Linked DNA regions of Homo sapiens. The protein of the gene in region 1 interacts with the protein of each later gene in a biochemical or structural test. Each region holds a gene or a part of one and is shown in the gene's direction. Other genes may lie near its edges.

Region 1 (2,891 bases):
TCTCTCCCAGAGGCCATCAGGCGGAAGGTGGAGCTGGAGTGGGGCACAGAGGATGATGAGTACCTGGATAAGGTGGAGAGGAACATCAAGAAATCCCTCCAGGAGCACCTGCCCGACGTGGTGGTATACAATGCAGGCACCGACATCCTCGAGGGGGACCGCCTTGGGGGGCTGTCCATCAGCCCAGCGGTACGTCCTGACCCTTGGGGCCACGGGAGGGTCTGCTCTATGGACTCAGCAGCAGCAGGAAAGGTGGGCGGCCTCATGTCAGGGAGGAGATGGACTGAAGCAACAGCAGTTTGGAGCAGGGCTAGCCCTGCAGCAGGACTTCCTGACACCATGGGGGTCTGGCCTGCCTGAGTCACCCTCCTCTTCCCCTAACAGGGCATCGTGAAGCGGGATGAGCTGGTGTTCCGGATGGTCCGTGGCCGCCGGGTGCCCATCCTTATGGTGACCTCAGGCGGGTACCAGAAGCGCACAGCCCGCATCATTGCTGACTCCATACTTAATCTGTTTGGCCTGGGGCTCATTGGGCCTGAGTCACCCAGCGTCTCCGCACAGAACTCAGACACACCGCTGCTTCCCCCTGCAGTGCCCTGACCCTTGCTGCCCTGCCTGTCACGTGGCCCTGCCTATCCGCCCCTTAGTGCTTTTTGTTTTCTAACCTCATGGGGTGGTGGAGGCAGCCTTCAGTGAGCATGGAGGGGCAGGGCCATCCCTGGCTGGGGCCTGGAGCTGGCCCTTCCTCTACTTTTCCCTGCTGGAAGCCAGAAGGGCTTGAGGCCTCTATGGGTGGGGGCAGAAGGCAGAGCCTGTGTCCCAGGGGGACCCACACGAAGTCACCAGCCCATAGGTCCAGGGAGGCAGGCAGTTAACTGAGAATTGGAGAGGACAGGCTAGGTCCCAGGCACAGCGAGGGCCCTGGGCTTGGGGTGTTCTGGTTTTGAGAACGGCAGACCCAGGTCGGAGTGAGGAAGCTTCCACCTCCATCCTGACTAGGCCTGCATCCTAACTGGGCCTCCCTCCCTCCCCTTGGTCATGGGATTTGCTGCCCTCTTTGCCCCAGAGCTGAAGAGCTATAGGCACTGGTGTGGATGGCCCAGGAGGTGCTGGAGCTAGGTCTCCAGGTGGGCCTGGTTCCCAGGCAGCAGGTGGGAACCCTGGGCCTGGATGTGAGGGGCGGTCAGGAAGGGGTACAGGTGGGTTCCCTCATCTGGAGTTCCCCCTCAATAAAGCAAGGTCTGGACCTGCCTTCCCAGGCCCTTCTGTGGGGGTGAAGGTGGGGAAGGCCTGCGGCGCCCAGATCACTGCCTTAGCAGTAGTCTTGCCTGTTCAGTGCAAGGGGCAGGTTTTGGGGGGAGGAATTCTTAGCGCAAGGACGGGCCTCAGCCCTGTCGCCTCCAGGGGGCCGCTGACCCAGGTGGGGAGAGGGCAGAAGAAGGGTGGGGGACGTGGGCAGGCCAGGCTCACAGGTGGAAATCAGGGATGCAGGGTGGTGCCCAAGCCAGGTCCTGCAGGAACCCAGGCCCAGGGAGGGACCCAGACACTGGTGAGGCGGGGCAGGGGTTCCTGGAGAGAGGGCAGCGAGGATCTCTATCCTGGCCTGGGGATTATGAACATAGGTAGCCGGGGCAGGGCCCTGGGTGGGACTGTGGCCTCCACTGGCCTCACCAAAGTGCCTGGGCCCCAATCCTTCTCCATGCCCAGGGGCCCCAGGTGGGCCAGACCTCTGGCCTGTTCCTCAGCCCTACTCATGGGGACATTCAGGGACCTCCAGGAAGTGGGCGGGGGAGCATCCACCCCTGCTAGCCGGCAGCTGTGGCCCTGATCAAATCAGGGGCTGGGGAGGGAAAGTGGGTCCATTGAGGTGGCCCTGCTCCATCAGCCCCCTACGGGACTTGTGTTCATTACAGTGAGGGGGTGCTCCCACTGTCTCCCGGCCTCCCTAATGCTCCCTCTGCTGCAGGGAGAAGGGTTCCAAGATCACAAAATGTCAACAATGCTGGCCTCCTGGACCAGACCCCGAGGCTCTAACAATGCACTCTGAGATCCCTACCCTTGCCGTTGGTCTCTGTCGCTGACTCGAGGCACCTAACATCCATTCACACCCAACACAGGCCAGCGACTTCTGGGGCTCAGCCACAGACATGGTTTGTCACTGTTGAGCTTCTGTTCCTAGAGAATCCTAGAGGCTTGATTGGCCCAGGCTGCTGTGTGTGCTGGAGGCAAAGAATCCCTACCTCCTAGGGGTGAAAGGAAATGAAAATGGAAAGTTCTTGTAGCGCAAGGCCTGACATGGGTAGCTGCTCAATAAATGCTAGTGTGTTATTTCATCTTCTGAGTCCTGTGGAGTTGGTAATGATTCCCATTTCACAGATGAGGAAACTGAGGCTTGGCAGGGGTGAGAAATTTGCCCCAGGCCACACCTCCCAGCAGATCTCAACAGTGGTAGAGCCAGGCTTGAATCCAGCTCTGCCAGATCCCAAAGTAAAAGTTCTCAGCTGCCTCACACTTGGCAGGGGGGTGGGGTGGGGGTGGGGGGTTACTCTGGACAGAGAAGGGTCTAGGATCCCAGGGTGATAAGGTCACTGGGCTGGGGTCTGGGACAGCCTGGGAATGGGTGGGCAGGCACAGCTGGGCTGTGATGGTGGCTCTGCTGCACAGTGGGAGGGGGCCCTGGCAGGGCAGTGGGTGGATGGGGTGTCTTCCAGGCCTGGGGTGCTTTTGGAGCGCTTATGGGGATGGGCTGCCCCGAGATGAGGCTGGGCTGGGGTGGGGTATCCAGGCAGGGGGAAAGGCAGAGCCTTGGCCGGGCAGAGTGACCAGAGCATCCCCAGTATCAGTGGCACAGCCTGGATGGGGGGCAGGGTGGCCCCTTGAGGTTCAGACAG
Region 2 (7,280 bases), about 35 Mb from region 1:
CTCAGGTGATCCACCCACTTCGACCTCCCAAAGTGCTGAGATTACAGGGGTGAGCTACTGCACCTGGCCTTTTTTTTTTTTTTTTTTTGAGACAGGGTCTTGCTCTGTTTTCCAGGTCTCAGGCTGGTGTACAGTGGCACAATCAGGGTTCACTGTAGCTTCAACTTTCCGAGCTCAAGCGAACCTCCCACTCCAGCCTCCCCAAGTAGCTGGGACTACAGACACGTGCCACCACACCCAACTAATTTTTTTTTTAACTTTGGTAGAGTCAAGTCTCACTATGTTGCCCCAGGCTTGTTTTGAACTTGTGGCCTCAAGCCATCAGCCTGCCTCAGCCTCCCAAAGTATTGGAATCACAGGTGTGAGCCACTGTGCCTGGTCAGTAGTTGTATTTTTCAAGCCTCATATGATTTGACAAGGTAAAACGTTTAAAAACTATGCCAAGAAAATCTGGTACCTATTGTTTCTATGGTTGGAACTCACAGAAAGTTATCTGGGTCACCTCTATCTGAATAACCAAACAATCATGATATGAATCAGTTTTATTCACCCTCTTCTCAAATCCTATTTCCCTTGATGTTATTTGCAAATAGGAGAAAAAACAGTAAATACGCTATGAAAATATTAAGACTTGTACAAACATGACATTTTTGACAATCTAATAGACGTAACATCAATTCTGGCAAAAGTACAAGCCATGAATATTTGTTGCCTGACTTAAATAAAGACCCAGGTACTTTGTTTAGTGTTTTAATTTTAATGACAAAATGGTGTTTTTTGTATTATTTCTTGAGAGGTTTTTTTTTTCCCCATAGGTTTCTGTCTAGATTCTCCTGGGCCATTGGACAGTAAAGAAAAGTATGTATTCACTGCTTTCAAATGTTTATATGTAGAAAAAACGTGTCTAAACTTAAATACCTTATTTAAATGAAGTTCTTCATACACTGGACTGGAGCCCTGGATTTACCTGTGCCTAGAAACACTCTGGAATCTCAAGAATGAATAGTTTGTGTCAGCAATTTTCAGAACTTTTTCTCCTTTATTTTAGCTATAATTTTGGTGTTCTGTTTGGGTCTTACCCAAACCCTTACTCTGTGCTCTGACATCATAGCCTTACAAGAACATGTGGGGTTTTTTTGTTTGTTTGTTTGTTTGTTTCTGAGGCAGAGTCTCACTCTGCCGCCCAGGCTAGAGTGCAGTGGCTCACTGCAACCTCCACCTCCCAGGTTCAACTGATTCTCCTGCCTCAGCCTCCCGAGTAGCTGGGACTACAGGAGTGCACCACCACACCCGGTTAATTTTTGTATTTTTAGTAGACACGAGGTTTCATCGTGTTGGCCAGGCCAGGAGTTCGAGACTCCTGACCTCGTGATATACCCTCCTCGGCCTCCCATAGTGCCCATAGTGCTGGGATTACATGTGTGAGCCACCGCGCCCAGCCGAATGTGTGTATTTTAAGAAAAGACATGGGTTTGTTTTTTTTCACCTAGAAGTCTAGTGTTGGGGGTGCTCCTGAGAACAGGACAGCTTCAGAAATTTATTCTCCCATCTCTTGCCTAAAATGGGAGTCTGTGACTGTACCCCCAAGCTACAGGCTAAACACTATCTCTCTGCTAATATGAATACCTCTTTACTTGTTTTATTCTCATTATTTACCTTCTGATCTCATTACAGCCTTGAAAATCCTATGAGAAGAATACATTCCCTACCTGTAAGTTAGTTCCTTGTTTATTTTGAGCTAATACCTGTTATCTGTTCCTTAGCTACCAGCATGACCTTGATAGGAGACTTAATTTAGAGAGTAAAAACTGCTTTTCTTTAGTCTCTTTTGAGACAAGGTCTTGCTCTGTCACCCAGGCTGGAGTGCAGTGGCAAAATCTTGGCTCACTGCAACCTCTGCTTCCCTGGCTCAAGTGATCCTCCCACCTCAACTTCCAGAGGAGCTGGGACTATATATAGGTGCACACCATCACACCCGGCTGATTTTTGTATTTTTTGTAGACATGGGGGTCTCACTCTGTTGCCCAGGCTGGTTTCAAACTCCTGCCTCGGCCTCCCAAAGTGCTAGGATTATAGGCAAGAGCCACTATTCCCAGCCTTTCCTTAGTCTCATAAGTACTCAAGATGTTCGGTCTGGAGGAATTTGTCCTCCATCTCTAACAGAGCTTTATTAAACCAGGAAGGGTTCTTTTGATGCAAATGTTATTTGGGGATTGATTTGGCACTGTAATCCCTGTTGAGGGGGGCACTGTAGACCTTGTGAGGTTAGCTGTAAACCCATGGAATGGAAACTTCTATGCTGTGTCCTGGCTGTGTCCTGGCAAGGTGGATTCCTGGCCACATTTACTGGTTACCTACTGCAGTGTGTGAGGAGCTAGTCTACCCCCTATTCAACCCCCCTTTTTTTTCTTTTGAGAACTGAATTTTCCACTGAAATTTTATTTGTGTGCCTTAATTATTTTCCTTTTTTACTTTGATAGCAGAAGCTGTTGGGATGTAGTCCAGCTCTGAAGAGGAGCCATTCTGATTCTCTTGACCATGACATCTTTCAGCTCATCGACCCAGATGAGAACAAGGAAAATGTGAGTGTGACTTCAATGTACTAACCTGAGGCAGAGGTGAAACCCACAGGCTGTCAGTGGCTTAGAAGTGGCTGGGCTGCTTTCTGGGAGACTAAACTTGGCCATTATGTGCGGTCTTTGGAGTCAGAGAATTCTGGGTTTGGATCCTGCTTACTAGCTGTGTGATGTTGGCAAATTCTTCTCTTTTTAATCTTTGCTCTTTTGTAAAATAGGAGTAGTAATACCTTTTAGGGATGTTGTGGCAATAAGTAAGATTATGTATGAAGTATTGAAAATGGTGCCTGACAGGCGGGAGTTGCTCAGATTGTAGCTCACAGGAGTAATTACATGTACAAATAGTGTTTGTCTGGAAGGCTCTGCCCAGGCTGTCCTTGCCTCTTTGCTCTGACCCTGAAATGAATTGTAAGCTTAGGAAAAGGCTCTTTGGCAGTATTTGTAAGAACGGGGTCAACAAGTTCTAGGGAATCTCAGAGTAACTGAAATGGTGGCTTGGAAGGTGAATTTCTGGTTATCTACCCTGAATGAGCCTGGCTTTTTTGTTCTTTTAGACATTGCACAGAGTAGGCATCCAAAACAGTTGTAATTTTTTCAGCCTTCTCTCTACTGTATTTCTATATATTTACTTTCTCCCCTTTTCCATTCCTGCTGAAATGCCACAGTTCATAATCCTTGTCCTTACAATCTTCAGGTTTAGTGTGAAACCCACTGCCTCCATGAACTCTCCTGATGATTTCTTTATCAACCTGGGAAGTGTCATGAGAAAGAATATGGAAATGAGTTCCAGCCTTGAGTGCTTGGAACAGTGTATCAGCCTCTAGTGCTTTTTACCAGGGCAAAGCTGTACTGATGCCTGGTTTTCCCCCGAAATAGCTTCTCAGGGTTGCTTGCCTGGAGCTTTGTTTTAAAGGGAAAACAGCATAGATGGTGGTTAAAGAGCTCTCACTCTGGAGTTGTCCTGTTTTACTTCAATATTTTGGGCACATTCCTTAACCTGCAAGGTCTAGTTTTCTCACCTGTAAAATCGGGACAATCAGGTTGTATTTGATGGTTAAAAAGTTAATGCACAGAAAGTACTTAGTACTGTGTTGGCATAGAAATCACTGTAATATTAGCCATTACTGCTTTTTTTTTTTTTTTGATTCTTCATGGTTTTATTTCTCTCAGAACTTTAAAATGTGAACATTCTATAATTCAGCCAGTCTTTACTTCCAGGTAACTTCTTTATTGGGTCGCAATACCCTTTTAAATAACATGCTCTTGTTCCGGAAGGTAGTTAGCCGTTCATCACTCTTTCTGTCTAAATAACATCCAGTGACAAATCCCATAGGGACAAGAACATGAACCCAGTGGTCCCGCACAATCTGAAGTAAGTTCACCATGATAGCTGCAGCCTCAGTGCCGACCGCGACCCCGAGACCAAGGGCAACGGGGAACTCAGCCACCCACGCCAGTGCTAGCCATTACTGCTTTTAATACTTAATTATGAGTTCTTAAGTGAATATTTTAGGGCAAGGGACCTGTGAGTGTTTTCATTCCATAAAGTGGAATCATACGATATGTATTCTATCATATCTGGCTTTAAAAAACATTATGCTTGTAAGAATCGTCCACGTTGAGTAAACCAGTAGGGCTTTTTTTTTTTTCATTGCTTTTAGTATAGAATAGAATAATTATAAGTAGAAAAAATTATCTCCAGTTGGTAGGAAGAGGTGGAAAATATGAAGCCCTGAAACAGATGGACCTAGATGGAAAATTTTGACAACTATTCACAGGCAATTATATTAGATTTTATTTATTTTTGCTTTAGATTTCAGAAAGTTTGTGATTTAGCTTATTCATCGTGTTTTGTATATTTGGCAGATACTTGTGTTAGGAAATACAGTATGACAAGAAAAAGATGTTACTTTAGAAGTTAGCTGTTGACAGAGCCTTGGAAATTCTTAGTTACGCAGATCTATTGTTGGAATTAGGTGAAACTTTAATTTGGAGGCAGAAAGGTGATCAGTGCCCACTTTCTTGCCTCTTTCACCCAAGCTGAGGCCTGAGTTGGTTTTCATGGACAGTAGATGTCTCAACTATGTCTTGCAGGAAGCCTTTGAGTTTAAGAAGCCAGTAAGACCTGTATCTCGTGGCTGCCTGCACTCTCATGGACTCCAGGAGGGTAAAGATCTCTTCACACAGAGGCAGAACTCTGCCCCAGCTCGGATGGTATGTGCTCTGGCTTTCATAGGGGAATTCCTGACAGGAAGAAAGGATTAAAACACCTTCTTTCATCCAGAATTGAAGGCACTACAGTAGCACTAGCTGTTTTTACCTTGACTTTGTCTTTTGAAATTAGACTGTCAAGCATTCTTGGTGGTTTTGCTGTGTCTGGAGAACAGACAGGCGGTAGTAAGAGTGGGAGATGGTGTTTGAAATATTGGAGTTGTGCAAGGAATAATCGACCTTGTTAATCTGGGAAATCCTGGGTCATCCTAAATGTATGTATGGTGGGATTATATCTCTTCCTATTTTTTTCTTTTTTTCTTTTTTTTTTTTTAAGGGCTTTCTGGCAAAAACCGGAAAGCCTGCGAGACAAATTTTAAAAGAGCCGTAACACTAGATCTCTTACTTAAAACTTGGTCTTTACTATGCATTCTAAGTGCTTCTCAAGGAACTGGAGAGAGAGCACTTGACTTCTTCCAAAGGTGGTTTGTTAAGAACAGTTATGGGCCAGGTGCCATGGCTCATGCCTATAATCTCAGCACTTTGGAAAACTGAGACAGGAGGATCGCTTGAGTCCTGGGCAGCATAGTGAGACCACATCTCTATTTTTTTTATTTTTAATTTTTTTAAAGAACTATTATGGATTACAGTGAATGCTCAGGCTGCTGGGCAGTTTTGGGGTCACTCGTTTCAGGGCTATGTATTTGCCAGACAGGGACTGTCATTACTTCCAAAGTTTCCTGCTGTTGGTCTGAATTGGATTAACTGATAGCATCTATAGATTGGAGAGGCCCAACTTGAGCAAGATGACCACATTTGGCTTCCAGGTTTACCTAGGATCTTAAATCTGAAAATATACCTTTCCAATCTGCTTTGTGTTCTGAGGTTCAGCCAGTATTGTTACTCTGTCTATCATTTGCACAAAGCACTTTTATATGTTCTTGTCTTGTGAAGTGGAGTTAATCCACTTGAACAGATTAGGAAAGTACCACTAGAGAGGTTTGGATGATTTACCAAAGGATATACATAAGTAGGAAACCAGGATTTAATGATCTCTGGCTGGGTGTGGTGGCTCATGGCTGTAATCCCAGCACTTTGGGAGGCCGAGGTGGGAGGATCACATGAGGTCAGGAGTTCAAGACAGCCTGGGTAACATAGTGAGACCCTATCTGTACAAAGTTAAAAAATAAGCTGAGTGTGGTGGCTTGTTCCTATAGTCCCAATTAGTCGGGAGGCTGAAGTGGGAGGATTGCTTGAGCCCAAGAATTCGAGGCTGCAGTGAGCTATGATCAGACCACTGTACTCCAGCCTGGACAATGAATCCCTGTCTCAATAAACAATCTCTAAATTCCCAAGTACACAGTAATGCTTTAAGAGTTGGGTATCAGAAACAATATATTTGGTGTGTGCTTAGCGACTAGAGCCTGTATCACATCTGCACCTAGGAATCCCAGAACATACCTCACAAATGTTGGTGTGATATAGTGTGAGCTTTCGTGATAAAGGTACTGCCCCATAATAAAGTTATCTACCCCTAGGCTAAAAAAATTTGCCATTTCCCAGAGTGTGCACTTGGGGAGGACTAGAGACTGCTCAGAACTTGTTTTATATTGTGAAGCAAAGCTAATGCCAGAACCAGAATAGGCCAGCTGCAGAGAGGATTCCTTGGTGCATGATCCACTCAGAAAATCAGAGGGCCACTTAACTAACAACAGATTCATACCCCAAAGAGATTTGGATTTTAAGGATTACTTGTAGGTCATAACATTGGGACTACCCTGCTACTGTGAAAAAAATAACTCTAAACTTTTTTTTCTGGATTTGAAAGTGCCTAGAAAATAAATAATTCAGTATTAGCAGTGTTTGTATTGGTAGGATTTATCTTCAGGTGTGGATTTATGAGCAGTTTTTCTAAATTTTCTATATTCCATGTTTAGAGGTTTCCCAAAAAAAGTATGACTATAGGTTGGCTAATGAGGTACCGCCATTTTAATTCCAGGAATGGTTTTCTCCTAGGGAGATAGTGTGGTGAGAAGAGTTTGGATTTTGGAGTCAAACAGATGAGGTGTATAATCTTGGTAACCTCTTAAGCACCAGTTTCCTGATTTGCTAAAGAAAAAGGAAAGGATTAGCTACCTTTAGTGTATTGTGAGGCTTCTATTGGATTATATGTATAAAGATTATATCGTAGTATCTGGCACACAGTAATTCCTCGTTTAAAAACTGAGCATTTAAATCCCAAGTCTAAAGAACGAGGATAGATTTTATAGAAGGAAGTTACCCTTTATTCCCCCCTGTCAGAACTGGAGTTATATATAAGTGCATTCTCTAGGCCATTTTATGGTCTTTATAGAGATTTGCATCTGCTTGCCCTAACTCATTTCAGCAGATTCTCATACTGTCACAGTCCTCAATGCTGATCGGTGTTCACTGATGCAACCTTCTAATAAAAGAAACCTTGTTCTTCACAAGAGGCTATCTCTAGTACCCATT

Evidence for each region.
Region 2: of the proteins of HDAC11 (region 1) and CDC25A, one has a biochemical effect on the other in vitro, tested with the Homo sapiens proteins (one study listed by BioGRID).

The regions. Positions count from the first base shown.
Region 1 is NC_000003.12:13,504,084-13,506,974, forward strand, and holds the end of HDAC11 (histone deacetylase 11), read left to right. Parts: intron 1-10; coding exon 11-189; intron 190-384; coding exon 385-600; 3' UTR 601-2,333; downstream 2,334-2,891. UniProt on the Homo sapiens protein: Responsible for the deacetylation of lysine residues on the N-terminal part of the core histones (H2A, H2B, H3 and H4).
Region 2 is NC_000003.12:48,178,231-48,185,510, reverse strand, and holds part of CDC25A (M-phase inducer phosphatase 1), read left to right. Parts: intron 1-815; coding exon 816-858; intron 859-1,674; coding exon 1,675-1,711; intron 1,712-2,480; coding exon 2,481-2,582; intron 2,583-3,714; exon of another isoform or gene 3,715-4,034; intron 4,035-4,670; coding exon 4,671-4,790; intron 4,791-7,280. UniProt on the Homo sapiens protein: Tyrosine protein phosphatase which functions as a dosage-dependent inducer of mitotic progression. Directly dephosphorylates CDK1 and stimulates its kinase activity. Also dephosphorylates CDK2 in complex with cyclin-E, in vitro.